5 separate regions of the Homo sapiens genome follow, and all the other regions are reported to be linked to region 4. Evidence: microRNA targets listed by miRTarBase, many of them from high-throughput screens and not tested one by one. Region 4 holds a microRNA gene; each other region holds the end of a gene's coding sequence.
Evidence for each region. The annotated mature microRNA hsa-miR-548b-5p reads AAAAGUAAUUGUGGUUUUGGCC and lies in region 4 at 4,170-4,191, shown strand. An mRNA with a match to its seed (bases 2 to 7 or 8) in the 3' UTR can be bound and repressed. Matches are read on the target gene's strand: a 7mer-m8 pairs with bases 2 to 8, a 7mer-A1 pairs with bases 2 to 7 and ends in A, and an 8mer does both.

Region 1: the mRNA of RAB8B is a reported target of hsa-miR-548b-5p. Seed matches in the 3' UTR shown: 7mer-m8 at 1,998-2,004, 7mer-m8 at 3,836-3,842 and 7mer-m8 at 4,597-4,603.
Region 2: miRTarBase lists YAP1 as a target of hsa-miR-548b-5p. Seed matches in the 3' UTR shown: 7mer-A1 at 5,096-5,102 and 7mer-m8 at 4,688-4,694.
Region 3: the mRNA of SAMD8 is a reported target of hsa-miR-548b-5p. Seed matches in the 3' UTR shown: 7mer-m8 at 2,490-2,496, 7mer-A1 at 2,595-2,601, 8mer at 2,630-2,637, 7mer-A1 at 5,826-5,832 and 7mer-m8 at 6,221-6,227.
Region 5: the mRNA of PEG10 is a reported target of hsa-miR-548b-5p. Seed matches in the 3' UTR shown: 7mer-m8 at 1,749-1,755 and 7mer-m8 at 3,665-3,671.

Annotation. Positions count from the first base shown.
Region 1 is chr15:63,261,907-63,268,288 of GRCh38, forward strand. It overlaps RAB8B (RAB8B, member RAS oncogene family), which reads left to right. Exons shown (of 8, transcript NM_016530.3): 7 at 786-836; 8 at 1,621-5,870. The coding sequence ends at 1,713. Among named protein-coding and RNA genes, the nearest start is that of APH1B, 13 kb to the right of the region's middle.
Region 2 is chr11:102,228,787-102,235,168 of GRCh38, reverse strand. It overlaps YAP1 (Yes1 associated transcriptional regulator), which reads right to left. Exons shown (of 9, transcript NM_001130145.3): 9 at 1,745-5,467. The coding sequence ends at 5,229. Among named protein-coding and RNA genes, the nearest start is that of BIRC3, 86 kb to the left of the region's middle.
Region 3 is chr10:75,175,258-75,181,639 of GRCh38, forward strand. It overlaps SAMD8 (sterile alpha motif domain containing 8), which reads left to right. Exons shown (of 6, transcript NM_001174156.2): 5 at 809-959; 6 at 1,131-6,382. The coding sequence ends at 1,435. Among named protein-coding and RNA genes, the nearest start is that of VDAC2, 32 kb to the right of the region's middle.
Region 4 is chr6:119,066,907-119,073,288 of GRCh38, reverse strand. MIR548B (microRNA 548b) reads left to right here and starts at 4,146; the gene lies at 4,146-4,242. The region is part of intron 1 of FAM184A (family with sequence similarity 184 member A); the gene reads left to right.
Region 5 is chr7:94,664,216-94,670,597 of GRCh38, forward strand. PEG10 (paternally expressed 10) reads left to right here. Exons shown (of 2, transcript NM_001172437.2): 2 at 1-5,480. The coding sequence ends at 1,467. Among named protein-coding and RNA genes, the nearest start is that of PEG10, 11 kb to the left of the region's middle. RefSeq lists an enhancer at 2,893-3,012.

The sequences.
Region 1 (6,382 bases), not on the chromosome of region 4:
ATTATGGATAAATTATCACGAAGATTAATCAGATTTGCCCTGCTTCTATTCGAACTGACTTCCATGGTGGGGAATTTAGCCGAGAGCTCCAGGAACTGTTGGGATTTTGGAGTAAGACATGGAAGATTATACATATTCAGCTATAAGAGTGAGAGCAATTTGAAAGAAAAAGCCAGAAATAAAAAGTAGAGATTTTTGTGAAGACATTTTAGAGCTATAGGGTAATACATAATTATTTATTCACTCATTAAACCAGATAGTCAGCATTTCCTAGATCAGCACTGTGCCCTGCTCTAGGGAAGTGGGGTAGCTTAGACAGAGCTTCTGTCCTGTTCTTGGTGTACTGAAGAAGTTACTCGTGACTCAACAAGGGTGTTATTGTGATATTATATCACATGAAGAAAATATTTGATGAATGAATGATAGTTTGATAACATTGGAAAATGTTTATGATACAATCTCAAAAGAGTAAACACATGCATACTATGATTACAATTATTACTTTCTTAATGTAAAGCTTTAAAGTGGTATATTTATATTGAAATAATGAAAAATTCTGTATTTCTGTTTTAAAATAAGTCAGGCATGGTGGCTCACACCTGTAGTCCCAGCTACTTAGGAGACTGAGGTGGGAGGATTGCCTGAGCCCAGGAGTTCCAATTCAGCCAGGGCAACATAGCAAGACCCCATCTCTGAGGCGGGGGGAATATATATATGTGTATATATATATATATACATATATATAGTGAATATATAATAATGAAAATGTTTTGTTTTACCTATAGGCATTTTTTACACTTGCACGAGATATAATGACAAAACTCAACAGAAAAATGGTTTGTATCACTTATAATTTTTATTTCCATTATGCTGTCTGTTTGGCATTTGATGAAAAGGATAGGTCTAATTATAAGATACTCAAATTAAACTCATTTTTTTCCTGACTCAGATACTCATTTGGTTGAACTCTGATTCTTAGTTCTGTTTGTTTAGGATTCTTATTTCTGAGCTGCCACTGTTTCAGTCCTTTCTTCTGGCTCTTTAAGTGATCTTTAATTGAATTTTGATGAGAATAATGAAAATAATAATGGCACAAATTCGATTTTTGCCATAAAATTATTCAGTTTTCATGTGACAGGTATTTATATCTGCATAACTACGATTTTGAAGTTGCTAAAGTTTGCTTAAATTTGAAATCATTAAGACAACCTTGAAAGTTTGTTTTATCCTGAGTCCTGACTATAATTGCGTACCTTATGCTACTAACTCTTCTTACCTCTAACAGAACTGTCTATGCCAGTATCTTAACATTGTTTCCATCATTACCTTTGAAACTTTACACTCCATTGGAACTAGAAATAGAAGCTTCCTATTGAATACATTATTGATATAAAAGCTGCTATCGTAAGGGCATTTTCCTCTTTTCAATTCACCATTTCCAAAGAAAAAGACAACATTGGTGCTTAACTAGTTCCCGTTCTAATAAAATACTCTAGTGAATACACATTTCACTAGAATACACATTTCACATGGTATGGTTAGTTATTTTTATTTTTTAGGTAACTGAGGTCAAACCATGAAACTTTTATTTCCTTGGTAACTTCATCTTCTATTTTTTAGAATGACAGCAATTCAGCAGGAGCAGGTGGACCAGTGAAAATAACAGAAAACCGATCAAAGAAGACCAGTTTCTTTCGTTGCTCGCTACTTTGATGAACTCTTTCTGAGAGACTGCAGCACACCTAGAGGGCCCTTTCCTGCTTCTCTGAAAGCACAGGTCACCCAGCCTCAGAATCACACCTCCCGGCTGCTGCTGAGAGCACCACTGAACTTAGACCTCTCAACACAGTATGCCAAGTGGATTCCAGCCTCATGGCCTAGCAAAAGAACAGACTCCCTTTTTCAAACATGGAAGCAATGAAGTGGAGACACATGCAGGACCTAACTCGTTTTTTCCTTGTTTTATTACCTGTTGCAGAAGCGGTTATCTTTCTTTTTTACTTTGCACATCAGTGTTAGCCTTTCCCTATTTCAGCACAATCTTAGACTCATATTTGCACACTTTTGTGTCGTGAAGTTCTAGACAAATTTGTACATGTGGCAATGTTAAAAGAGCATTTACAGCAGAGGTTAATATACTAAAATTAAAGGGTATTTGGTCTGGTTCATATGGTCAAATATTACTGCCTTGGTAGCATTTATTTAAGGGCTTTTTCTTAAATAAGAATCATTAAAGTCATTAAAAAAATTTACTGAAATGCCCATCTTGTCATCAAAGGCCACAATTTCTTTATTTCTTCAGATTAAGAGCTTTGCCTCATCCCCGACCTGTTTTCCAGAGTCTGGGTAGCTGAATGAATCACTTTAAAATGATTACCTCTGCCTAATCTATAGAAACTGCATTTGGAAATCACCATAATCTCATTTTTCCCTGGGGTTTGTATTTGCTATTCTTTCCCATGTTTGACTTAAGTGTAATCACTCTTAAGTAATATTTGAACATTATTATCTGTTTCTATTTGTGAACTTCTTGAGCTGAAATTTTACGTGGGCTGAGAGATATACCATTTAGGGTTTTAGTGCAGCATCTAACTGTGATTCTGTCAATAAGGATATGTAATATATTTTTTCTTAGGTTCACTCCTTAGCTGGCTGGTTTAGTTGTAATACCAAATTCCTACCATAATCCCTGTCTACAAAAGTTAGGTTTAGATTTTAGTTTGCGGAAACCTTCCCTATATAGAGACAGATTAACTTGTTGATATAAATTTAATAGAGCTAGCTCTTGGTAATGGTGAAAATAATGAGTTTTGGTTGGTTTTATTTGGCAGATGTTTTTAGAAATAAAAGTACTTAGACCTAGTGCAGCCTCTAGGAAAAGTCTTGCCTTTTCATTAGAGAAAACAGGACCAAGGTTTCAGTTTTCAAACAGCTGTTGTTGATTGTGTAGAACCCAGTTCCATCTGTTTTGGTTCATTGTTACAGAACTTAGTCCAGTCATTTGGGCTAAAGCCAACCAAAAGCTTAGTTGCCTTTCTCAACAAACACTGGTACTGGTATACTTTTGTAGATGAAACCATCACAAGGTATTTAGTGTTAACTTGTGTGCCAAATTCAGATCACTATGTCGTTGTTGCTCTAGCCTTCAGTGTCATAACACAGGGGGGATAAAACAGAGGGGATGAGGGAAATGAATTCTGTTAATAATTATTCTTCCTGGTATGCCTGTTTTGCTTCACAAAGGCTACTATCATGCTGGATAGATAAGAACAGGAGATGGCAGTGGAAAGGGATTGCTTGTTACCACAGAGAATTCTCTTCAAATTAAGATATGTCATTAGAATGCTTGGACCAGTCAATCTTTTGTACTTATTTGAAAATATAGGAACAATTTAGCAGCTGCAAATATGCCCAAGCTATTTTTAATAGATATACTAAACTTATTGTTGACAAATTTCAGCCTCCTTAATTTTTTTTTTTTTGGTAATTACCTATAGGCTTAAAAGTCATTCGTTGCTGTTCTAGTATAATTAGTAGTTCCGTGATTGAAAGTTTATTGTAATTCTACTATCTTCAAATTAGATACATTTTCAAAAGGAAAAGATAATTTTTTAGAAACATCTTAATATTCACTATTTCCTGAAAAAATCCAAGCAGTTAACGCTTTCTGGATGGTAACAAAGTACCTTCTAAAAGATAAGTGCTATGACACCATGTATGAATGTAATTCTCTTAGTAATTTACCTCTGACTATTTGGTGTCTTAACGCTTTGGTTTATATAATCTCAGGGGTTGTCTGCAAACCAAAACTGACATATTCTGTGGTTAGCTTTTATTACTTTTTTTTTTAACAGAATGCTTTGCTTTGGTTATATTTCTTCTTTCTTCTTTTGTCTTATATGGATTAATAACTAGTCTCCATGAACTTCACTTGAAAGAGCCTGTAAAAGTTAGATGAGTCTAAAAGTGCTCTTTGAAGTAGCAGCAAATTGGGAGTATATGCTCTGTTATATAGAAATAAATTGTCCTTGCTATTTTCTTACATTTAGCTTTGCTAGATTGTATATACATTGAGCTAAGACCTTAGGAAATTCACTTTCTGCATGATAAAATGACCCAATAAATATTCCACTTTGCTTAATAATGTACATACAGTGCATTATTTTTTCTATTTGTAGATGAATTTAATGACAGATAATTGTCTGTTCCCCGCTGAAACTGAAGAAATCTAGTTTTTTTGTGAACATTTTTGTGGTCTTATGGATAAGGTACATGAAGATTTTTGCAGCAGTATTAGTGGTTCAGTGGCTGCACTTTATTAATCAGTGTGTTAATTTTTGACAGTGATTGGACTAGACCTTTTCAAATAGAGTCTGAGGGTATCAGACAGTGAAAATGTGCTGTAACTAAGTAGCATGTAAATCAGTTGATTGTAAAACGTTTCGCTGGGAACTTATTTTAGCTATATTTTACTTCAGACAGATTATGATACAATAATCTACCTGTGCATCAGTTAGTAGGTGCTGCAGGGTTTCTTACTATTTACAGAAACATTTTGTGCAGTCTTTGTTATAAATTTTCAGAAGACTATACTCTTTACTTTGAAGGTCTATTTTTTAATTATACCTCATTTAGCTAACTAGTATTCTAATACCTGGTAGAAAAACAGTGAGCCAGCCTTTAAGCATCTAACAAAATTTAGACTCTTTGTTTTGTTTTGAACTGAAGACATCATTGGGAAAGGTAGGAAATATTAGTTTAGGATAGAGCATACATGTCATATCCAGTAGCATAAAAAAAGTATTATCTCCCTGTCTCCATTAATAAATTTAGCTGTGCAATATAGGTGCGTTTTTGCAGAAGTTTCTAGTAAGAGATTATAACTCCATTTTACAGGTTCTGAATGCTCAGAGTCTATATTAAGGCTTATAAAGTTTTTCCTGTGATCAGTAAGTGACACATTTAAGCAGACATTCTTTTCAAGTTCATGACTTAGATTCCTTTACAAATTTAGTTCTCAATCTTTAAAAACCACATTTCATTATGTTGGTTAATTATTATAAATTTTAAGCACTCATTTCTGCAATCAGGTTTCTCAGAATTTTTTTTTTTTAAACAGAAGAGACATTCCTTTTTCCTTGTTACATCCAAGGGGGGCACAGGGGTGGGTGGAAAGGAATGTCTAAAAATGAAATCCCTTGATATAGAGGGACCTAGACGGACAGGATATGCTAAAATAATTTCAAATTCTAGCACAATTTTAGAGTAGAATAAGTCATTTTTTTAGACTAATAAAATTAATGGCTGTCATGTTCACTCTGAAAAAAATCTAAATGACTGAAATGTACAGAAATAAAAATTAGCAAACAATTATTCTAGGGATATTTTCAGATTTTACTTCATTTCTTGAAATGCGTGTGCCATATGCAATTGCATTTCTTGTGCCAAGAAACTAATAGAACTTATTTCACTTTACCTTTTTTTAAAATGTGAATTTAGTTATTATAGTTCAATTTTATGGCCTTACAGATGGCTTTTATTTTGTTTGCAGCTGACACTGCAGTTCCTTTCATGCAAAATACCATAAACTGTTTGATGAAAATCATGCCCCTAATGGAAACTCTCTAGTTTTTCCATATAACTATCCTACTGTACATGTTTAAACATATTTTATTTTTGCTCCAATGGCTTAATGTGAAAAGCTCCTGCAGATAAGTGGACCTGTCATGTGGTTAATCTTGTTTAAGCCAATTCATTAACTGTGTACTGATACTGATGCTATGTTTTTTTTAAATGGATTTTATTCCAGGTGAACTTTTTTTTTATAATAATGTTCGTCTAAAATAAAAACTACATAATGAAAATGAAAATGCTAATGGCTCTCTGAAATGGACTGCACATTTTAAAAATATTTCTGCAAATTTGGGCCAGATGCAGTGGCTCACGCCTGTGGTCCCAGCACTTTGGGAGGCTGGGGTGGGTGGATCGCTTGAGGTCGGGAATTCAAAACCAGCCTGGCCGGCATGGTGAGACACCCATCTGTACTACAAAATTACAAAATACAAAAATTAGCCCAGAATGGCAGGGCATGCCTGTGGTCCTGGCTGCTCAGGAGGCTGAGGTGGGAGAATCGCTTGGACTTGGGAGGTGGAGGTTGCCGTGAGCTGGGATCGGGCCACTGCACTCCAGCCTGCACAATGGAGTGAGACCCTGTTTCACAAAAATAAATAAATAAATAAAATAAATTAAAAATGTTTCTGCAAATTTGACAGGTATATGTTTCAAACCATGGCAGACTTAAGATATTTTAGCAAACTTTATATCTGACGCAGAGTTGTTTAAAGATCTAGAAAAATAGCCAGCTCCCCTGTTCATCATACTT
Region 2 (6,382 bases), not on the chromosome of region 4:
AGAAGGTAAGAAAACATCATCAGCTCCTTGGGGCTGCCTTTCTTTTGTAACCTCAGCTGTCAAGAAATGGAAATCGGGGTTGGGGAATTAAACAAAACCCCCAGTCTACCGATCACTTCTGCAGTAGTCACCTAGGTTTCCTTTCACTAGTAGTTACTGATCTCTCTCCCCCTCCCCCTCCCTCTGGAAGACTGTTTTCTTGCTTATTGCAGCTGAGCAATTCACTTACTGAGCTGTTGAACTTTAATTTGGGGTCTAAGAAAAACATTATGTAAATCATGTTTTAAGTATGACTACTATACTTCTCAAGTATTTGGAATGTTCCTCCTTGTTCTCGTTAGAGGCTATTCCCAAATCTAAATACATTTTTCTGAGTATTCTGTTAAACTCAGAGTTAACTAAAGATGGTACAATTCTGGTTCAGAGATCCAGAATGAAGGCAGATTCACATTACTGGGCTTCACACCATCTGACAAAAAGTGTACCACCGTGGAGCAACAAGCACAGTGTCTACAGACACAAGGTATGGTTTTGAGCCAAGATGTACCACCACTATATCTGAACTACAAAAAGGAAATAATCAATTTCAAGCTACACGAAATTAGTGTTCTAACATAAAGAAATTATATATTGTAAAATATGAAGCATTTTCAGATTTGCCTCACCAAAATAGATGTGTCAATAATTGAAGCTATTATACACGCAAACACAGAAATCAATCTTTTTTTTTTTTTTTTCTGAGATGGAGTCTCGCTCTGTCACGCAGGCTGGAGTGTAGTGGCGTGGTCTTGGCTTACCGCAGCCTCTGCCTTACGGGTTCAAGTGATCCTCCCACCTCAGCCTCTCAAGTAGCTGGGATTGCAAGCATGCACCACCATGCCCAGCTAATTTTTGTATTTTTAGTACAGATGGGGTTTCACCATGTTGACTAGGCTGCTGTCGAACTCCTGACCTCGGGTGATCTGTCCGCCTCAGCCTCCGCCCACAATGCTGAAATTACAGGCGTGAGCCACCACGTCCAGCCATCTTTAAAGATACTCAAATCTACTTCTTATTCAAAGGTCAGGACCTACCACTTCAATTTGTGAATGTTTTTATTTATAAGCCAGTAAGTAATGCTTTTTACTAATATATAATATTCTCTCATGACCTCCAAAATAGAACAGAATATATATATATTCTCAGCCTCCCGAGTAGCTGGGATTACAGGCATGCGACACCACGCCCAGCTAATTTTGTATTTTTAGTAGAGACGGGGTTTCTCCATGTTGGTCAGGCTGGTCTTGAACTCCCAACCTCAGGTAATCCGCCTGCCTTGGCTTCCCAAAGTGCTGGGATTACAGGCGTGAGCCACCACGCCTGGCCTGAGAGAATATATTAAAGAAGTAAAACCAAAGGCCATTCTGAAAGACAGTGCCATGTTCTTATGTTCTCAGTGTCCTCTGTGCCGTCACATGTAGTGAAGTCATTTAAGAATCAAGCAGACGCAGTTCTGCTTAGACACTACCACGGATGAGGATGGTGTATGTGAAGAGTAAGAACACAAAGTTAAAAGAATTATATATCCATACTTCAAAAGTTCCAAATGTCAAGCCTAACTTAAAGCACAACGAAACTTAAGTTTAACTTGTCTTCCCAGTTACTACTGTAATCACCTTTTATTGCCAGTTCTTGTTCTATTGGAAGACCAGTAAGAAGCCAAAAAAAAAAAAAGTTTCAAATATCAATTGTTAAAAACAACAAAGAAGAGTTTAAGGAAAGAATATATTTGAACCACATAAACAAACAAAAAGGTATTACATAAGAAAAAATAATGTAACAATTTATGTAAGTACCTAACATATGAGCATGCTCTTACATCTAAAACAAAAAATAAAAAGGTAACATTGGTACTATATATATATATTTGACAAGTGTGCATTAAAGAATTCTCTAATATAAAACATTTAAAATGTGGAGAATACTTTTTCAAGATACAGAAAACAATTGTTATGATAGGCACACCCACAATTCTTATAACAACATGCTTGCGAGGATAAAATCCACCTGAGCACTCATTTCTCAGATGTACCAACGCTAGAAAAGTGTTAAGCACTGAATATTGCCACCCACTTTTGCAATGTTTGAGTTTCAACACTGATTGGTATGAATTCTGAATTACACAATTAATTACTGTTATTTTTCAGTCTTTCTGCCATGTTCCATATAGAAGGCATGTATTTAATATGAATACTTAACACAGCAACATTATTTGTAGCAAAGTCACTTCCCTGTGTTCATTTTTCCTTTAAAGGCACTACATTTAGAAAAGTTATTACAACAAATAGTGCTTTGGAAGATCTGAAACTCCAAATCAATGTGCTCCATCAACCATAAGTAGATCTAAGAAGCCCTGACTGAAAATAACACAAATGTAAAAAGTTGATAAATTTAAAGATTATAAAATTGGTTTATTGTAAAAGCAATTCAAGAATACCCAGTTAAAATCTTATCCCAATGCTACCCAATACAACCAAGAAGCAGTTAAGCACTTTTACATTAGGAACAAGGACATAAAACAAGAGACCACATCAAGGCTATGATTCAAACTCAAAAAGGGAAAGGACTCTTAGGTCTCCTTCAGGTCAGTACAGAGGGCATCGTAAGATCAAAGCACTGTGCCAGGTATCACAGTACTGCTACAACACTGAGGTATAACTGGGCAAATTAAAGTTGAGGGGTAAAGGAAGATCTCCATATTCATATTGTTTTGTGGGTGTACTTAGGTGACTGAAACTCTAGAACAGCTGCCTTTAATGGCAGCACGGTGTAAGACAAGTCTTTATTAAAGAGAAAGAAGTTTATAAAGTTCTCTATCAAGGTCCCCCTAAATCTTCACAACCCCCCCCCCAAACTTTCCCACCCTCCCCCTAAGCTAAAGCTAATCTGCTGATATATAAGATATAATCTTAATCTGTGGCTACTGGCAAATTATAGGCACTCCTTCCAAGTAGCTTTGATCTTCTGCACATTAAAAAAAATCCCAACAACATGCTATGTAATTCATATACCCAATTTTGCATTCTAGGTAGAATTTCATTACTACTCTAAAACTCCATCTGCAGTGGCCATTTCCCCCCAGACTTAATTCAAGATTTAATCTTTCTGCTGTTTTCTTAATAAAAGCCTTAGAGTCAATTATTATGAGTGATCAACCTATGAACTATTATATACAACACAGTGATTGCATTTTTTTGAGCACTGAAAGTACTTAAAATAAAACTTCTTACTTCCAACTTTTGCCCTCCTCCAAATTGAAGGGCCAAAATACTTAGATTTTGTAATTGGGGGGAAAAAAATCTATCTTCCCAAGCTGAGGCTTTTCATAGCAGCTTTTGCCAGGAGAAGAGATTTTATGCCTGTTATGAACCCTTGAAAATAAGGGCTTATTCTAGAAACATTGAAAGACCCTTAAAACACAGAGGTGCTAGCTGGTGCCACTTTAATTCACAACCAACTATTACTTCATAGCTTATATTGAAGAGTTAATTCATGCTCGTTTTGTTCCTTTAAAAAATACTCTTTGGAAACCATTATTACTCCTGTAGACACATACTCTAGTTACATCATCTCTTCCTGTAAAAATAAAGGTATAATCATGATTATCTCTATTTCTTTGCTAAATTCAACTACCAATATACATTTATTAATCTGATCACTTTTCCAGCTAACTCAAAACCTTATAGTATTCTATCCAGGGTCAATTTTCAGCATAGAAGTAGGAGCAAGTCTTGTAAGTAAGAACAATCTTGAAGGCAATATTTTAATCTAGTCGTTAATGTGTTCATTACAAATGAGAACTACAAACTAGAATTTACTTCCAAAACTAAGGCAAAGAAAACTTCCAAAGCTAAATGAAGGTAAACCACTATAAAGCTTATTTCTGTCATGCACATTATGAACCTACTCACTGAATTCCAATCGAGACTTAAAAATTAGTCCAAGGGAGAAAATAAAGCCATTTCTGGTTTGCTCCTTTCCAATTCATCAGATAATATCTACCGTATGCCCAGAGGGCGTGGAGCACTCCCCTAGGCACTATCCACAGTAATAGCTCTTTCTAGAACACTAAACTACTTCAAACATCTGCAGACTGCCCCAACCAGATTTAAACTACCAGTGAAATATAAACTACTAGTCATGTATTCTAAATGCATACAAAGCGCTACCATTTTAAAAATTAACTGGAAAGCAGGGAAACCTAAAAAAGGATACATTCCACTACCACACTATTATAAATGTTATGTTTGGGTGTGTGTATGTATATAAAAGAGAGAGCAGATAATCGAGATTTAAATAAGGTGGTAAAAAAAACCAGGAAATGAAGATTTTACCAAAACAACTACAATAACCATCCCAAGCTACAACTATTAACAGATTCACTAATATGGTCATTTGCCTAGGTTCCGACAAAACCAACCAACCAACCAACCCCCCCACCGACCCTGCCAAAAACAAAAAAAACAAAAAACCCAACAAAACAGAACAAAATGCACACCCACAAAATTATCCACCAAAATCTATATTAGAGTATGTGGCAATAATTAATATATTTATATGGAAATTGTCTCATGCCTTATAAGCTCCTAAAATAAAATCAAGGTCATTATGTGACTAATGATAGCACTAGGAGGAAAAGAAAATACTGAAAGTAAAACAGTCTTCAGCCTTGGTTTCAGCTATCTCTTCAAATCAGCATTAAGTATTTAATATCAGATATAACATTTTTGGCTTGTCAGACCAGTAAATCATGTTTTTCCACTGGACAAAGGAAGCTGAAGAAACAACTGTTGAACAAACTAAATGCTGTGACATGAAGCATCTGACTTCTAAGTCTGAGTATTTAGTTAAAATGATTGGTGAACATTTAACTGGGCAAAAGGAATGGCATCCATCATCCAAACAGGCTCACTTCCCCCAGCCCCCAAAATGAACAGTAGTTTTAATAGCAAAAGAAATAAAAAGTTTTTTTCTTTTGATTCTTTAGAGCCAACTGTGAAAGAGGTCAGCAATACATTAACAGCAGCAATGGACAAGGAAGAGCAAAATAGAGGATTAAAGTATCTTGCTGGACGTTTGTTCATCTTTTTCTGTATTAGCCTGAAAACTGCAACTGGCTTATGGAAATTTCCGGTGCATGTGTCTCCTTAGATCCTTCACAGATTTAGAATTCAGTCTGCCTGAGGGCTCTATAACCATGTAAGAAAGCTTTCTTTATCTAGCTTGGTGGCAGCCAAAACAGACTCCATGTCATTAAGGATGTCAGAACTCAAAGCTTCCTGCAGACTTGGCATCAGCTCCTCTCCTTCTATGTTCATTCCATCTCCTTCCAGTGTTCCAAGGTCCACATTTGTCCCAGGAATGGCTTCAAGGTAGTCTGGGAAACGGTTCTGCTGTGAGGGCAGGGTGCTTTGGTTGATAGTATCACCTAGTGGAAACACACAGAGATAACAAAGTCCTTTTTGAAAAGCTAACATCAGGGCTGTATCATATGAGCACAGAGAAATGCACAGGGAAAGAAAAGCGCTCCTGACTGACCTAAACTGATACCTAGAATTTATATCAGGTCAAACAACTCACAGATAACAAAATAACAATGCCAAGTTTACTTTTGCTTCAACATTGTTCAGATATCCAATAACAGCTTGATTGCTATTATGTGCTGAGCACTAAAGGAGTCATGAAAAAAATAAAAAAGCCCTTGAAAAATTATATGCAGCAGCGGGAGAAAGAACAAGTACACAACACGACAGCATCACTACCCTGTCTTCCAGATAAGCACCACCATAATAAGACTAAACATAAACATGAGTGGTATAGACCTACCTTGGCCTTAAATATACTTTGGGAAACACTAAAATAGAAAGACTGCAAGAATACTTTATTCTACCCTTAGGAGATGCACCTTCCTAACAGCAAAACAAGCCTTCCCAGAGGGCTTTGAATAAATCCATCTTCCTAGCCTTGCTTCTAGGTTTCCCAAACTTACTTGGCCACAGAGCCTTTTTTGCATATGACAACATTAACACTCCTCAGAGCTTCAATAGAACATACTTTCAGAAAAACTAACATAAACCATTAAGTGCTACAGGGGTCTGGAGAAGAGAGCAATACAGATTAGAGGAGTAAGTAAAGGTGTTGTGTGTGAAATGGGTTTGAAGTGGCTCCTAAGGATGATTTAACATCTAGATAATCAGAGAGGAGGGGTAGTGTGGATTCTAGAAAGCATCAAAGCCAGGAGCTGGATGAATACAGGCACAAAAGCCTTGCTAAACACTTTCAGAATAGAAGCAGTTAGTGAAAGAGTTGGTAGCTAAAGAACAGCTTCATTTCCCTGCCAATT
Region 3 (6,382 bases), not on the chromosome of region 4:
CTGGGAAAGGCAATATTTTGGCTGAATTCATTGCTGCCTCAATATATTTGAGATTGTGTTACCAGTGAAGAAGGGGAGAGTGGATGTTGAAAGGTAGACATTGATCTCCGTCTGTCATAGCCTATGTCTTATTGGCAAGAATAGCCAAGCAACTACTACTGTGATATTGGATTAAAAACTTGGAGATGTTTTTGTATTATAGAGAACTTTTTATTATAAAGGAACTCCTAGTAAAGGAGTTCATGTTACAGTGATTTCATTTATTTATTTATTTATTTATTTATTTTTAATTAATTAATCAATTTTTTTGAGACAGAGTCTTACTGTGTCGCCCAGGCTGGAGTACAGTGGCGCGATCTCGGCTCCCTGCAACCTCCGCCTCCCAGGTTCAAGTGATTCTCCTGCCTTAGCCTCCCTAGTAGCTGGGATTATAGGTGTGCACCACCATGCCTGGCTAATTTTTGTATTTTTAGTAGAGTTGGGGTTTCGCCATGTTGGCCAGGCTGATGTTGAACTCCTGACATCAGGTGATCCACCCACCTCAGCCTCCCAAAGTGCTGGGATTACAGGCATGAGCCACTGTGCCCAGTCTGATTTCATTTAATTACCAAAATATTTCTGAGTACAGCCAAGCTTTGCCCACCCATTCTTGAAGTCTGGCTGGAATTCATTAGACTGAAGGCCTAGATGCTTTGGCTTAGATCTTATTTCTAAGTTATTCAGCATTTGAATTTCAATAGGAATGGATGTTGGGAAGTTCCCACCTCCCTAAGCATTTGAAGCACTAATTCATAACTTTTCTTCATAGATATATGGCAGTGTATGGGAGAAATTACATCGAGCCTTTGCCATTTGGAGTGGCTTTGGTATGACCCTGACTGGCGTTCACACATGTGGAGATTACATGTTTAGTGGCCACACAGTCGTCCTAACTATGCTGAATTTCTTTGTCACCGAATGTAAGTATCTTTTTAGTGCTTCTATGCGTATTAGGTAACTAGCTGCAGTGAAGGCTGTGGGAAGGGTGTCAGATCCTGTGAAGAATGGCAAAACAGCCTGACCTGAGAAACGTGACTGAGAAGCATTGGAAGGAATGTAGCTTTAAAATGATCTTTCTGTCCTTTTCCTAGATACACCAAGAAGCTGGAATTTCTTGCACACTTTATCCTGGGTTCTCAACCTCTTTGGAATCTTCTTCATCTTGGCTGCCCATGAACATTATTCTATTGATGTGTTTATTGCTTTTTATATAACAACAAGACTCTTTTTGTACTACCATACTCTGGCCAATACCAGAGCATATCAGCAGAGTAGGAGAGCAAGGATTTGGTTTCCCATGTTCTCTTTTTTTGAATGCAATGTTAATGGCACAGTACCTAATGAATATTGTTGGCCATTTTCAAAACCAGCAATAATGAAAAGACTAATTGGATGAATACTATCTTTCTAATGAATTTGTGATTAAATATATAATAGTTGTTGAAAATGAGTAACTTTGCGTTCTCCCCCTAGGTTGTTCTTAGATGCCTGGCTTATGTGTTGACAAAGTAAAGTTTTCTGTTCTGAGCAAAGTTATGATTATAAAAAGCAAGAAAGAACAATCAAGAGTCCTTATGTAGCTATTTGAACAGAAAGCTTAAGTAGATGTTTTCTGCCCCTTCTCTTTAGGAAGACTTAATGTTGTGATTGAAGTCAGGCTGTACCCTTACCTGTTGAGTATTTGCTTATTGAACTTTAAACAAGTCAACTTGAGCAGTTTGCTGGTTGAGGAATTTTCATTGATTTCCAGTAGGGCTCTAGTCAAGAAATAATATGTTTTGAAGCTCCTTATTACCTTTAGAAGAAGAAACCCTAACAAGTGACAGTACTTGTTCTTTGGACTAATCTTTGTTTCATTTTAAAAAATGCAACCCTGGGACATGATCTGTTTTACTGACAAAGAGTTTTTGCCTTCTGAACCATCTTTAAATATACTGAGCATACCAGGATGCCTGAAATAAGAAGAGAATGAAAGAGGCCATAGATGACGTGACAGAGTACTGGCTAGGATGCCATTGGTCTCCTCATTAATGCAAATGTAGGGCTGGCATATTTCACCAAAGATGCAACAAAAGATGCAGTGCCAGTGTGACCCTCAGTGAGTATTCATGAGGGAAAAATGGCTGCATCCATAAAAATAAATGGGCTTAATGTTAGTGGTATAGGTACCCAGAATAACTTCTTTGTGCTATAGTTGTTAGATGACAGTTCAATTTTATGCTTTTTTAATGGTGTTATTAAATGAGCCAAATAGGAGTGTTTTACCAGATGTTAGATAAAGTTCTTAATGCCGTTAAGTAGGGAGGTATGCATGCAAAGAATTGTTTTCTCCTGAAAAGAAACTTACAGCACGCAAAATATAACTTTTTGGTTTTTGAAATTTATCATTCTTGGCTGTTGGAAGTAAACAGTCTCAGACATACTTGGATATGAAAAAGTTTCGTTGTTTTTTACTTTTAAATATAATGGTGTATATACATTCTTTCTATTTAGTCTTAATTTGGCAGTCAGGAAGTGATATAACTTAGCTGCTATTTACAACACTAGAAATTTAGTACTTTAAGTAATTTCACATCTATGATAACATTTGTTACTTTATTTTTAATGATTTTTTTACAGTAGTTATGACAGTAGGATGGTTATGGAATTGGAATTTAAACTCCCAACTAATGAGCTTAAGCTGCTTGGAATATTAATTATGTAGTTTTTACATTCCATTTTAAAACAAAAACTTAGAAAAGGTGCTGGCATTCTGAGGCCTGCAATTAGGCCACATAGCAGAAGCTTGCTCCTTCCTTATCTGGGTGAAATATTTTATTTTTGCACTTTGAGTCATATTCCCACCCCTGTATAAGCTACATAGGAGCCTGAATGAATTGGGTAGGAAAGGAAATTATGCAAACAAGTCTCAGCTAGTGCTGAATGACCCCAATTTGGGTCTGCTGTGAACATCATTTTTGTATTTCTCACTTGAGAAATGCTGCAAGGCAATTCAACTTTTATGCTTTTAAATCTCACAACTCAGAATCTGATATCTTAAATCACTGATTCTGTTACATGCTAGGAACAAAATGCCAACATCTCATGTAAAGAAGTTGCATAATCATGAAAAATAAAGGATGTTTCCTATGCCAGTTAGAGTGGTTTGACCCTTCAGGTAAAAAGATATGTTACTGTTATTTTTCTACGTGACAGAACAGACTGAATTTAGCTAGGGAGGCAGTGATGTTGGCTTTTGGGAAAGGGTTCAAAAAACTGTATGGCAACATTAATGCTAAAATGTTAAGCCGAGTGCAGTGGTGCAAGGCTATAGTCCCAGGTTCTGAGGAGGCTGAGGCAGGAGGATTGCTTGAGGCCAGGAGTTAGAAACTAGAGTGTGTTATAACGCCTATGAATAACCACTGCATTCCAGCCCGGGCAAGGTAGCAAGACCCATTCTCTTAAAAACATGGCTGGGTGCAATGGCTCACGCCTGTAATCCCAGCACTTTGGGAGGCCAAGGCAGGCGGATGGCTTGAGGTCAGGAGTTCGAGATTAGCCTGGCCAATATGGTGAAACCTCATCTCTACTAAAACTACAAAAATTAGCTGGGCATGGTGGCACGCACTTGTAATCCCAGCTACTTGGGAGACTGAGGAACAAGAAACACTTGAACCCAGGAGGTGGAGTTTGCATTGAGCTGAGATCACTCCACTGCACTCCAGCCTAGGTGACAGAGTGAGACTCCATCTCAAAACGAAACAAAACAAAACAAAACAAATTAGAGTGGGTGCAGTGTCTAATGCCTGTAATCGCAGCACTTTGGGAGGCTAAGGCAGGAGGATCACTTGAGCTCAGGTAAAAGAGACCAGCCTGGGCAACAAAGTGAGACCTCATCCCCACAAAAAGTTGTTTAGAAAATTAGCTGGGCGTGGTGATGCATGCCTGTGGTCCCAGCTACATGGGAGGCTGAGGCAGAAGGATCACTTGAGCCCAAGGAGGTTGAGGCTACAGTGAGCTGTAATCATGCCACTGCACTCCAGCCTTGGGGACAGAGTGAGACCCTGCCTCAATCAATCAATCAATCAATAACAAAAACTTAAATAGCTATTAACCTCAGTCTTCTTTCCTTCATATAAATTCTATTCTAAGACCAAATAGAAAAATAAATGTAACTAACTTTGCAGAGCTATTGACATTGAGAGACCTAACAACAGACTGCAATGGGGATTGTAAAATAACTTTTCAGCCTTGCACTTGCTCATATATGTTTTGAGAAAAATGTAAGTTAGGTATAACTTATTGTTTTAACTATTATAAGGCAGTGTTTACATAAATTAATCATCTCTTTCTTGGAAAACATTGAGACAAATTTATTTTCAGTTTTACTTAAACATGAAACCTGTATTTTAGTTGCTTTTTGTTTTGTCCAGAAATTTCCAGATTTTGTCTTCATTTTTTTTCCTGGTTAAAATCTAAACCATAGTGAAGATAGTATTTATGTTTACATTTTATCTGTGAATGTGGCTAAGCAGAGAAGCTACATGGCTTTGGTCTACATATTTTTTGACCTTGTATTTGGTTCTGTAGTTGCAGACTTGTGAAGGCTTACATCATCATGGAGACTTTAGTAAGGAAGGAACCAAAAGGTTTTTGGTTTGGGGATGCAAACTGGAGGTTATGTTACAAGTCTTCAATGCATTTTCTGTGTTCCTGGCAGCAGTGTTGCCTTTTTTTTTCTTTTCCTTTTTTTTTTTTAAAGACCAGGTAGGGTAGTGTTATTGAAGGGTAATTGAAGAGTGGTAGAGAGTAAGAGGTTTTGAAGGAGGCAGGTTTGCTGTTATCACAAAATAATTTGGGGGAAACCTTTCGTGGCTGTGCTGCAAGAATTCTTTATGTGGCTATCCTCTCCATAGTTTTCTGACCAGAATTGCAAGGGCAAAAATAGAACTTCTAGCTCTATTTATTTGTATCCTTTGAAATCAGAACTTATCCTTAGAACCAGTCAGTTAAATAATGCGGACTATGCCTATAATCCCAGCACTTTAGGAGGCTGAGGCAGGCAGATCACGAGGTCAGGAGTTCGAGGCCAGCCTGGCCAATGTGGTGAAACTCCGTCTCTACTAAAAATACAAAAATTAGCCGGGCGTGGTGGTGCACGCCCATGCCTGTAGTCCCAGCTACTCGGGAGGCTGAGGCAGAAGAATCGCTTGAACCCAGGAGGCGGAGGTTGCAGTGAGCCGAGATACTGCCACTACACTTCAGTCTGGGTGACAGAGCGAGACTCCATCTCAAAAAAACAAAACAAAATAAAATAATAATGTGGGCTATTCAGAAGAAAAAGTCAGTGACAGAGAGACCAGAACCCATTGGATCAAGAGACCTGCAGGGATTATAACTCTTTACTCTGTGAGCAGCGGTGTTTCGTGCCCTGTCTCTGCCTGTGTGTTTTTACTAAGAATTCCAGAAATCCTGTAATTTGTAAATGGGAAACAGAGGAACCAGATTGTTTTATAGCTGATAAGAAACAGTCTGTTTTAGAAACATCTGTTTGGAAAGTATTACTCATGTATTCACAAAGTCATATTTATAACACTAGTCTTCTTTGACTGTATTCAACAAAAGGCAGTTTCACCATTAATTTCATAGTAAGCTTTTTTAAAGGATTCTAGATCTAAATTGCCTAAGAATGTTAACCACATTCTTGTTTTAAACTCTCTAATTTAATAAATGTAATTATTTTATAGTCTTTTATAGACTTACATTTTCTTCATACTAAAGGTAATGATAATATAGTCATTTGCCAGTACTTTAAGGTATTCAGGCATTTGAGACAAGAAAGCTGTCTTGTAGAATAGTCCAATTGCTTTCTTAAACAGTACTGGTTTCATTTAGACAGTTTCTAAGCCAGCAAAGGTGTCAATTTTAATGCCAACTTGACAGTTTAACAGTTAGTGTTTGTAAGCAGTTTAGCCTGAATTATCCCATACTGCTGTAGAGGAGAATTGTTAGTAACATCAAAGGTCAGAATGCTTCAGGTGACTAATAAGAATGGAAAGAGACTGAGTAGGTTTTTTGTTTCTTTTCCCTGTCTTTGAGTAACTTTGAATGACTAAAATTAGTATGAAACTAGGTTTTGGACCCCCTTCTCACCTCACCCGGATGTAATGCCACCAATTTCAAATAACTAAAATGTGACCAATTACTTTGCTTCAAGTTCTATACAAATATCTCTGAAATCTGTAAGCCATATTTCAGCTATTCTGGTTTTTATAATACATTCTACCCTAAATTAACCAAAGGACTTTTTATTCAGTGTATTCCATGTTTCAGCATAAGGAAAGTTTGTGCCTGATATGGCAGG
Region 4 (6,382 bases):
CAGCAGGAAGTAGTTTATTTTGTGTTTTCTGTGCTTAGCATCAAGTCCTCTTATTTAATACCCAGCTTATGGCTCTTCTACTAAAACTGTCCTGACCAGCTACCCTTGTTGGGCTTTCCTTGCTGTGCGTTAGCATTGATTGTTGGTACCTCTTACTTGATACTTAATAATGCAAACTTGCAAATACTGTTTATTGTGTTTATAAATATACTTTGTTTTCATAATTTGACTGTAAGGTTCTCAGCTCTAGGGACTGTATCTTTTATTACATGTAACCTTAATATGAATGGTTTGCACATAGTACCAAAGCTTAATAAGTATTTACTGAAGAAGATGGTGGTCATAATGATACAGCAAGTAATTTTGTTATACAGCAGAGAAAGACAGTACTTTTTAGGAATTGTATCTGCTACTCTTCTGGGTTAATGATAGATCATTTCAGCTGAGTTAAATTATTCCTAAATATGTAAATGTTTATTGACTGCCCTTTAAACTGCTTCAAAAAGCTATTTTATTTCTTAATGTATTTTTGATGTAAAAAATACAAATATAATGTTCTTTGTCTACATTATAAGTATTTGACACTTCAGAATGTAGGTAATTAATATACTAGTTTCTTAGCAAATATAAAAAAGCCTTGTGATCAGTCATTTTATACTAACTCTGCTTTTACTATATCCAAAACCAGAATGTGTTTATATAACACCAAAACCAGTGAATTTTTCAAATAATACTATTTTCTGTACATGAAATAAATGATTTTTCACTAATTGGTTTGTTTGAATTATCTAGATACTCTTTCATAATAATTCTATATTGCTTATGACTTGAGTCTTTGAACAAGAATGGTAAGTGGCCTCATAAAACATAGCAATTGGCTGTGTTTCACCTTAGCACTAGTACATGCCAAATGCAGCATCTCTTTTTCTTTGTTACATTGTAGCTTTGCCATGCTGTTATGCAGTGGCTTGGATGTAATCTTTTAGTCATAGTGGAGTGGTTTGGATTAATTTGTTGCATTTTACTAATGGACACAAAAGCATAGTATCCTGTTAATTAACTGGTCACAAACTTATAAAGGGACTTCCTTTAGAGTTAAAGATTTAGAGTTAAAGGTTAAAGGTTTAGGTTGGGTGCCCTGGCTCATGCCTACAGTCCCAGCACTTTGGGAGGCCAAGGCAGGCAGATCACTTGAGGCCATGAGTTCGAGACCAGCCTGGCCAACATGGTGAAATCCCGTCTTTACAAAAAATACAAAAAATTAGCTGGTGTGGTGGTGGGTGCTTGTAATCCCAGCTACTTGGGAGGCTGAGGCACAAGAATTGCTTGAACCCAGGAGGCGGAGGTTGCAGTTGAGATCATGCCACTGCACTCCAGCCTGAGTGACAGAGCAAGACTCTATCTCAAAAAAAAAAAAAAAAAAAAAAAGATTAAAGGTTTAGACTTTAGACTGTGACCAGGCTGACCCTCTCATTTTATAAGTATAGAAGGTGTGAGGGCTCGGTGCCATTTGAAGATTACTCAACCTGGACTCACATTCAGCTCTCTAGATTGGTCTAGGTGGGGGTGGCCACACTAACAGGCCTCTTTTCCCTGTGTCTACCTTCTTTCTAATATTACTTATTCAATAAGAGACCACAGAGTTATTGTTTTTCCATGTTGGAACCATGTTTTACTTACCATCTGAATCAAATTTTTGATAAGGGTGAAACCAACCTGTGTCTCCTCTGTATACTTACTGTGGAACTTTCTGGGTTTATAGGTTGTATATTTTGTATACTATGACTTGGTCACTTTGTAACAGAGGTTTATTGTGTGTGCTGTCAGCTAAATGTCATAATATTTTCATGTTTTTATTAACAGGTTTAGTCATTCCAAACTGAAACGTATTTAAAATAACATTAACTTAGAGACTGCCATACTTGGTGTGAAAATTACTACTGTGGTTATTTTAAATGTCTTTCTTTTGACTGCTTTCATTCTTGATTAGATTGTTGCTTAGACCCCATTCCTAAACACAGTAAATTGCAAGTTTTCCAGTTTTTATTGATTCACTATCTGTTTAGTTTATGAAAATCCTTTGCTAGCCTCTAATCACCAGTCTTAAAAAGTGTTATGAAAGATAAAGATTCAGCAGGAATATGTGACTGGAGTAATTTCTTCATTTTAATTAATAAGTTCCCTATACTTTAACTTTTAAAATTGTGATATTTTTGAAAATTTTGTATCTCTTAAATGTGAGATGGGAATGAAGAATAACCTGGGTCTATAAAGCTAATTAGTTTGTGGAAGAAAATAGGAGGTAATGGGGGCCAGGGGAGTATTGATAAAATACTGTTATTTTGCCCTTTCAATTGATCTTGTGAGTTTTTTTTTTTAAAGAAAATCTTCATAAGCATTCAAATAAATTTGAATATTATGCCATGAAATGGAAAGGATGTGAATGACGGGAGTTCGTAACGCCATTCTTTTTATTCACCACAGGAAGTTTCTATCCTGCAGCCCACTTCAGAATGTAAAGGACATTAAGTAAATGTCAGAATTGGTGCCCCATGTCCCTTTTTTGGAGATAGACACCTATGGGAGACAATCACTAACTGATTTCAGGATTAGATAAATAGATAAATAAAAACAGCAACATTGAGATCCCATCTCTACTTTTTAAAAAATAAAAATAAAGAAAAACAATGTTATAAATGGTAGTTTGATATGGGGGAATCATATCAAACTATTAGGTTTATATTTTATATGTCAAGTGTGGTCTAAACCATAGGGGGCTTTTTAGATTGACCTAGAGAGTTAATGGTCCTTCAAAATATTGGAAAATATTCTTTGGCTGCCAATCAATTAATATATAAAAATGAATTTTTGAAACAATGATATTTGCAAGTTGGAGATTGCCAGTTGTATTTTGGTATGCTTAACCTTTAAGACCAAGCAAAAATTTTAGAAAATCTCTGATTCTTAACTTTTAACTAAATTACATCAGTGAACAACTGTCATTTGTAACCTTATTTCACCAAGGATTACATCTTTCTTTTCTACCAAAACTTCAACGAGAATGTATAAAAAGTAGTGAAGTTGAATATATGAATTTTTTATCCTGTATCTTACACTATTATCTTGAGATGCAAATGGAAGCTGAAACTATCAAAGGATCTATAGTACATGGAAAAACAAGACTTAGTGATTAACAATCATATGTGGGATTTGGATATTTTAGACTTGGCTACCATGTGCTACCTCATTTAATTGTAAAGGAGATAGTACTTTGATTTTTTTAATTGCTAATTCTGTATTTCCTTATTTACATGTACCATCTCTATACCAAAGTTTGAGGAAGTTGGAAAGTAAAACATTTCATCTATAAAGTGCATTACTAATATTTAAATTATCAATAAAATTGATAATTTTAGTAAAATAACAGGGTAAATTCCTATTTATGCGAAATTATTAGAGAATGAATTATTTTAGTTAACTAGAAGTTTCCATAGGGGTTAATAAGTTTTCACTTTCTCATATAGTATACTTACATTTACATCATACCATTCATATATCACACTGGAGTTCTTCATCAACTCCAGATCATTGTTAGGATCATCAGTGCATATATAGGAAATTGGACCAAACTTATGCTAGTCCTATTAGGCCAAATCCATGAATGCTGATATTTAATTTCTGAATAAATTGTTACTTGCCCTTTTACTTGTCATGTCTTTTTTACTTATAAAATGAAGTGTCGCATTTGGATATTTACAAATTCTAGACATTGGCCTTGGTGGTTGAGCAGATTTTGTTTATTCTGGCGAATGTGTGTCTATGTGTTCACAGGTATTTGCATTTTTCATCCTGTAGCTCCTTAAGCACAGTTTTAAAGATTCTCATTTCTTTCAGAAAACATTTTATGACCAAAATACTAAATAGTATTCTTTGCCTACCTTTAGATGTTTCGCCTAGTGAATTTTGGGAGGAAGGTGTGTGTGTGTGTGTGTTTAATGGTCTACTCAGAGTAATAAAATATACTTAGATATGACCGAAGTAGAATATATAGGTCTATGTGTTTGGTAAACTTGTCGAATGCCTACTTTATGAAAGACATTGTGCTTGGTACTATTAATTATTTAATACTATTTATTATTCCATTTCAGACTATATATTTAGGTTGGCGCAAAAGTAATTGTGGTTTTGGCCTTTATTTTCAATGGCAAGAACCTCAGTTGCTTTTGTGCCAACCTAATACTTCACATATATTTTCCAACAGACTTGAGAAAATGTAACTGGAATATATTAATCATATATTTTAATTACAACATATTTATCAGTACATTAATTCTGACAAATTTTAGATGTGTAATCATGGGCAAATTTTTCTATTTGGTTTCGTTCTTTTTGGGTAGAACTTATGTACGTGCTTTTCTTGGATAAAGAAACTATACTGATACCTTCTAAATTCTCTAATAAGGTTTTGATGACTCAGTTGACATATTCTGGTTACAAATCTCTAATATATTTGGCTGGGGGGTAGAGCGGGTAAAAGGAAATTTCAGTCTTGGAAACCCCGGAGTTAATGTGTTTGTGTTAGGTTTAGGTTTCTCATGGGCAGCCGGAGAGCCACATTGTTCCCAGAGCCAAACGGCCCAGTGAGGCAGCAGTGCCCATCATATGGGTCAGAGGTGTGGTTCAGTAAGTTAGGCATTCCCTTATTTGAAGTTCACCTTCACCACTTCCTAGTGTTTGACTTTTAATACATATTTTAACCACTCAGGGCTGTCTTGTCCTCATCTGTAAAATGAGAATGACAAAGCGTACTTCATAGAATTATTATAAAGATTAAAGGAGATAATTGATGCAGGAGAGAGAAGTCAGTTTGTACCCACTATCCCCTCCCCACTTGGTTAAGCCTCTGCTGACATACTCTTTAACAATAAAGTAGGTTTTTAGGCCAGGCGCAGTGGCTCACACCTGTAATCCCAGCACTTTGGGAGGCCGAGGTGGGTGGATCACACTTGAAGTCAGGAGTTCGAGACCAGCCTGGCCAACATGGTGAAACCCTGTCTCTACTAAAAATACAAAAATTAGCCGAGTGTGGTGGTGCATGCCTGTAATCCCAGCTACTCGGGAGGCTGAGGCAGGAGAATTGCTTGAACCCAGGAGGCGGAGGTTGTGGTGAGCTGAGATTGCGCCACTGCACTCCAGCCTGGGTGCACAGTGAAACTCCATCTCAAAAAAAAAAAAAAAAAACCCACACACAAAAAAACAATAAAGTAGGTTTTTATATGTCTTTATTTTGTTTGTTTGTTTATTTATTTATTTTTTAGAGATAGAGTCTGGCTATGTTGCCCAGGCTGGAGTGCAGGGGTGCCATCATAGCTTGCTGCAACCTTACACTCCTGGGGTCAAGTGATCCTTCCACCTCAGTTTTCTGAGTAGCTGGGATTATAGGTGCAAGCCACTGTGCCCAGCTATATTTTCTTTTCTGATGGATATATAGTCTACATTGTTGGGGACCATAGCTGTCAAGTAAAGGTTGAGCAGCAAATAAAATATAGTCAGTTCTCATTATTCGTGGTCGTTGTATTGCATGGTCTAGGGAGAATACAGAGCTAGGTTCCTGACACCCTCTGGTCACAACATTTTCACCAACTGATCAATGTATAACCTTGTTTTATGTGTGTTTCTGTTTAAAACACCTTTTAAAATATATATTGATCCATTAACAGTGAAGCCACAGCCAAATATCACTATAACTCATGCCTGAACAAAGGTTATTTAGCACACCTTGAGTGTTAGATTTTGGGGTTACATGTAAATTTTAGCAAGTAAGATAATTTACAAATAGGGAGTCCATGAGTAAAGAAGATCAACTGTATCTAAAAATGGAAGCACAACTTTGCATCTGCTGTTTTCTTAGCTCCTGCTGTTTATCAGCTATTGTTAGGGGCCTAAGTGACTATGACTCTTATTACCACCCTAAACACCCTCACATGAGTGTGACTTTGACTCTCATTATCTCAGTAAACACCCTCAGATGAAAGGGGTGGAAAGGATAATGGAGGCTGAAATACTAATCTTTTGTGTGACTTGCCAGTCACCTACAGGCCACCCTACAATCATAAGCATGGGATAAATTCTTTCCTTGTATGTTAATTGTAATCTTCAAGATCTAAACTTGAATCTATCACATTGCCCTACATCAGAAAAAGGAAAAAAAATATGTAAATGATTCCAGGGCATGGAGCAAAACCTTTAAAAAATAATTTATTTTAGTTTAAATAAAATCTTTCATAGTCATCATTTGCCTAAAACATGTTTGCAGTTACTTCTTTTCTAGCATAAATTGTCACTGTGGGAGTTGGTTTTGTTAAAAGTCTTTGTCTATGTA
Region 5 (6,382 bases), not on the chromosome of region 4:
CCTCGAGGTCGCCAAGTCGCTGTCTGCTCTGATTGGGCAGTGCATTCACATTGAGAGAAGGCTGGCCAGGGCTGCTGCAGCTCGCAAGCCACGCTCGCCACCCCGGGCGCTGGTGTTGCCTCACATTGCAAGCCACCACCAGGTAGATCCAACCGAGCCGGTGGGAGGTGCCCGCATGCGCCTGACGCAGGAAGAAAAAGAAAGACGCAGAAAGCTGAACCTGTGCCTCTACTGTGGAACAGGAGGTCACTACGCTGACAATTGTCCTGCCAAGGCCTCAAAGTCTTCGCCGGCGGGAAACTCCCCGGCCCCGCTGTAGAGGGACCTTCAGCGACCGGGCCAGAAATAATAAGGTCCCCACAAGATGATGCCTCATCTCCACACTTGCAAGTGATGCTCCAGATTCATCTTCCGGGCAGACACACCCTGTTCGTCCGAGCCATGATCGATTCTGGTGCTTCTGGCAACTTCATTGATCACGAATATGTTGCTCAAAATGGAATTCCTCTAAGAATCAAGGACTGGCCAATACTTGTGGAAGCAATTGATGGGCGCCCCATAGCATCGGGCCCAGTTGTCCACGAAACTCACGACCTGATAGTTGACCTGGGAGATCACCGAGAGGTGCTGTCATTTGATGTGACTCAGTCTCCATTCTTCCCTGTCGTCCTAGGGGTTCGCTGGCTGAGCACACATGATCCCAATATCACATGGAGCACTCGATCTATCGTCTTTGATTCTGAATACTGCCGCTACCACTGCCGGATGTATTCTCCAATACCACCATCGCTCCCACCACCAGCACCACAACCGCCACTCTATTATCCAGTAGATGGATACAGAGTTTACCAACCAGTGAGGTATTACTATGTCCAGAATGTGTACACTCCAGTAGATGAGCACGTCTACCCAGATCACCGCCTGGTTGACCCTCACATAGAAATGATACCTGGAGCACACAGTATTCCCAGTGGACATGTGTATTCACTGTCCGAACCTGAAATGGCAGCTCTTCGAGATTTTGTGGCAAGAAATGTAAAAGATGGGCTAATTACTCCAACGATTGCACCTAATGGAGCCCAAGTTCTCCAGGTGAAGAGGGGGTGGAAACTGCAAGTTTCTTATGATTGCCGAGCTCCAAACAATTTTACTATCCAGAATCAGTATCCTCGCCTATCTATTCCAAATTTAGAAGACCAAGCACACCTGGCAACGTACACTGAATTCGTACCTCAAATACCTGGATACCAAACATACCCCACATATGCCGCGTACCCGACCTACCCAGTAGGATTCGCCTGGTACCCAGTGGGACGAGACGGACAAGGAAGATCACTATATGTACCTGTGATGATCACTTGGAATCCACACTGGTACCGCCAGCCTCCGGTACCACAGTACCCGCCGCCACAGCCGCCGCCTCCACCACCACCACCGCCGCCGCCTCCATCTTACAGTACCCTGTAAATACCTGTCATGTCCTTCAGGATCTCTGCCCTCAAAATTTATTCCTGTTCAGCTTCTCAATCAGTGACTGTGTGCTAAATTTTAGGCTACTGTATCTTCAGGCCACCTGAGGCACATCCTCTCTGAAACGGCTATGGAAGGTTAGGGCCACTCTGGACTGGCACACATCCTAAAGCACCAAAAGACCTTCAACATTTTCTGAGAGCAACAGAGTATTTGCCAATAAATGATCTCTCATTTTTCCACCTTGACTGCCAATCTAACTAAAATAATTAATAAGTTTACTTTCCAGCCAGTCCTGGAAGTCTGGGTTTTACCTGCCAAAACCTCCATCACCATCTAAATTATAGGCTGCCAAATTTGCTGTTTAACATTTACAGAGAAGCTGATACAAACGCAGGAAATGCTGATTTCTTTATGGAGGGGGAGACGAGGAGGAGGAGGACATGACTTTTCTTGCGGTTTCGGTACCCTCTTTTTAAATCACTGGAGGACTGAGGCCTTATTAAGGAAGCCAAAATTATCGGTGCAGTGTGGAAAGGCTTCCGTGATCCTCTCGCTGCACCCTTAGAAACTTCACCGTCTTCAAACTCCATTTCCATGGTTCTGTTAATTCTCAAGGAGCAGCAACTCGACTGGTTCTCCCAGGAGCAGGAAAAACCCTTGTGACATGAAACATCTCAGGCCTGAAAAGAAAGTGCTCTCTCAGATGGACTCTTGCATGTTAAGACTATGTCTTCACATCATGGTGCAAATCACATGTACCCAATGACTCCGGCTTTGACACAACACCTTACCATCATCATGCCATGATGGCTTCCACAAAGCATTAAACCTGGTAACCAGAGATTACTGGTGGCTCCAGCGTTGTTAGATGTTCATGAAATGTGACCACCTCTCAATCACCTTTGAGGGCTAAAGAGTAGCACATCAAAAGGACTCCAAAATCCCATACCCAACTCTTAAGAGATTTGTCCTGGTACTTCAGAAAGAATTTTCATGAGTGTTCTTAATTGGCTGGAAAAGCACCAGCTGACGTTTTGGAAGAATCTATCCATGTGTCTGCCTCCATATGCATCTGGGCATTTCATCTTCAGTCCCCTCATTAGACTGTAGCATTAGGATGTGTGGAGAGAGGAGAAATGATTTAGCACCCAGATTCACACTCCTATGCCTGGAAGGGGGACATCTTTGAAGAAGAGGAATTAGGGCTGTGGACACTGTCTTGAGGATGTGGACTTCCTTAGTGAGCTCCACATTACTTGATGGTAACCACTTCAAAAGGATCAGAATCCACGTAATGAAAAAGGTCCCTCTAGAGGATGGAGCTGATGTGAAGCTGCCAATGGATGAAAAGCCTCAGAAAGCAACTCAAAGGACTCAAAGCAACGGACAACACAAGAGTTGTCTTCAGCCCAGTGACACCTCTGATGTCCCCTGGAAGCTTTGTGCTAACCTGGGACTGCCTGACTTCCTTTAGCCTGGTCCCTTGCTACTACCTTGAACTGTTTTATCTAACCTCTCTTTTTCTGTTTAATTCTTTGCTACTGCCATTGACCCTGCTGCAGGATTTGTGTCATTTTCCTGCCTGGTTGCTGAGACTCCATTTTGCTGCCACACACAGAGATGTAAGAGGCAGGCTTTAATTGCCAAAGCACAGTTTGAGCAGTAGAAAACAACATGGTGTATATCTCAAATTGCCTGACATGAAGAGGAGTCTAACGGTGAAGTTTCACTTTTCATCAGCATCATCTTTCACATGTTCATTATCATCTGCTCTTATTCTTGCATGTTTAAACACTTAAAATTTTTAGTATAATTTTTAGTGTGTTTTGAAGTGGTGACTAGGCTTTCAAAAACTTCCATTGAATTACAAAGCACTATCCAGTTCTTATTGTTAAACTAAGTAAAAATGATAAGTAACATAGTGTAAAATATTCCTTTACTGTGAACTTCTTACAATGCTGTGAATGAGAGGCTCCTCAGAACTGGAGCATTTGTATAATAATTCATCCTGTTCATCTTCAATTTTAACATCATATATAATTTCAATTCTATCAATTGGGCCTTTAAAAATCATATAAAAGGATATAAAATTTGAAAAGAGAAACCTAATTGGCTATTTAATCCAAAACAACTTTTTTTTTCCTTCAATGGAATCAGAAAGCTTGTCAATCACTCATGTGTTTTAGAGTAATTACTTTTAAAATGGTGCATTTGTGCTTCTGAACTATTTTGAAGAGTCACTTCTGTTTACCTCAAGTATCAATTCATCCTCCATACATTTGAATTCAAGTTGTTTTTTTGTCAAATTTACAGTTGTCAATTGATCTTCAAGCTGCAGGGTGCCTAGAAATGGGCCGTTGTCTGTAGCCCTGGCATGTGCACACGGACATTTGCCACCACTGCAAGCAAAAGTCTGGAGAAGTTCACCAACGACAAGAACGATTAGGGAAAATATGCTGCTGTGGGTTAACAACTCAGAAAGTCCCTGATCCACATTTGGCTGTTTACTAAAGCTTGTGATTAACTTTTTGGCAGTGTGTACTATGCTCTATTGCTATATATGCTATCTATAAATGTAGATGTTAAGGATAAGTAATTCTAAATTTATTATTCTATAGTTTTGAAGTTTGGTTAAGTTTCCTTTCACTCAATTGATTTATTTTGTTGTTAATCAAATTTATGTTAATTGGATCCTTTAAATTTTTTTTGGCATTTTCCAACAAAAATGGCTTTATTCATAAGAAAGGAAAAAAATCAATGGAATTTGATATCTAAAGAAGTTAGAAAGGGAGCAAAATAAAAAACATAAAGGAGATAGATGAATTAGTAAGCAAATCAGTAGTCGAGTTTTTCAAACTGGCAAAATTAATTAATTGACTTTTAGCCCAAATTTACATTGTTAATTAAATCAAGAAGGAAGAAGATCTAAGAGCTCCCATTGATAGGCAAGCCTAGAGAGAACTAGCTAAATTTATCATGCTAGGATATTGAAACACAGAAAGTTTACATACATTTATGAAGGGTCAATTTAGTTTGGACAGTGAGGTATTTGTCTTAGTGGAAAAAAGGAGAATTAGTCTGATCAAATCGTGAAGTAATACAGTGAACTTGCAGGTGCACAAAATAAGAGGGCCACATCTATATGGTGCAGTCTGGAATTCTGTTTAAGTTTGTAGGTACCTCTTGGACTTCTGAATTGATCCAGTTGTCATCCACCACAGACATCTCACATCAGATACAGACAGTTCCAAGATTGACAACAGAGAACAACCTGCTGGAAAGACCTGGGCAGAAATGGAGAGCCCTGCGGGAACCATGCTACATTTTCATCTAAAGAGAGAATGCACATCTGATGAGACTGAAAGTTCTTTGTTGTTTTAGATTGTAGAATGGTATTGAATTGGTCTGTGGAAAATTGCATTGCTTTTATTTCTTTGTGTAATCAAGTTTAAGTAATAGGGGATATATAATCATAAGCATTTTAGGGTGGGAGGGACTATTAAGTAATTTTAAGTGGGTGGGGTTATTTAGAATGTTAGAATAATATTATGTATTAGATATCGCTATAAGTGGACATGCGTACTTACTTGTAACCCTTTACCCTATAATTGCTATCCTTAAAGATTTCAAATAAACTCGGAGGGAACTGCAGGGAGACCAACTTATTTAGAGCGAATTGGACATGGATAAAAACCCCAGTGGGAGAAAGTTCAAAGGTGATTAGATTAATAATTTAATAGAGGATGAGTGACCTCTGATAAATTACTGCTAGAATGAACTTGTCAATGATGGATGGTAAATTTTCATGGAAGTTATAAAAGTGATAAATAAAAACCCTTGCTTTTACCCCTGTCAGTAGCCCTCCTCCTACCACTGAACCCCATTGCCCCTACCCCTCCTTCTAACTTTATTGCTGTATTCTCTTCACTCTATATTTCTCTCTATTTGCTAATATTGCATTGCTGTTACAATAAAAATTCAATAAAGATTTAGTGGTTAAGTGCAAACTGTGTCCTGATCATTTCAGCATCTACCAGCATCAAGGGAATGGGGTGGGGTAGGGTGGGGAAGGCTGAGAGAGTAGGGAGAGTGGGAGAGGCTAGAGTAGGGTGGGGCTGTGGGGAGGGTGGGATTGTTGGAAGGGTAGGGAGGTAGGAGGGTGGGTAGGGTAGGGGTGGAATTGAGTTTGGGATAGTGGGGTGGTGGTATAAAGAACATTATTGATTACAACCTAGTATGAATTATATAGCCAGAATACTCCAGGAAATCAGTTATTCCAGCTGCAAAAGTTTAACATATAAAATAAAGATACACAATTAATAGCAACTCTGGTTGCTATTATCACAAACTTTAACATCAGTTTTACTTTAAATACTTGAGATTCATTAATATAAAATTATGAAGTATTAGGACATAGAAGAAGAGTTTCAAAGGGCTGCTAGGTTCATATGACATGACAGTCACATAAATATGACTGTTTATTGGGAAGATAGTGACTAAAAGGAAAAATCTAGAACTAATGAAAACACACAACTAAAAACTGTCTACCCTCAGAAGCAGGCTACCAGAGTAGCTATCCATCAAGCAGAGCTCACAAACTCCAATCGTGTGCAGGGTGGTGGGTGGGTTTGAAGAATTGGGAGTAAGGGTCCTCAGCCAAGAACTACTGAGTTATTAAGTACCTGCCCTGGGGGTTTCTTACAATTTAACCTGATACAAAAGTGATTAGCCAAATCCAGTTGAAAGAAAATGGAAATATTTTATTCCAATTTGTTACACCTAGACTCCTCCTCATCTGGGCCCCACTTCTTTCCATAATCCATGTGATTAAACAAAAACAAAAAAAAAAGGTGCTCAGCCTCAAGATTATATTAAGTTATGCAGCTGTATGACAAAGCTAGTCCAGAAC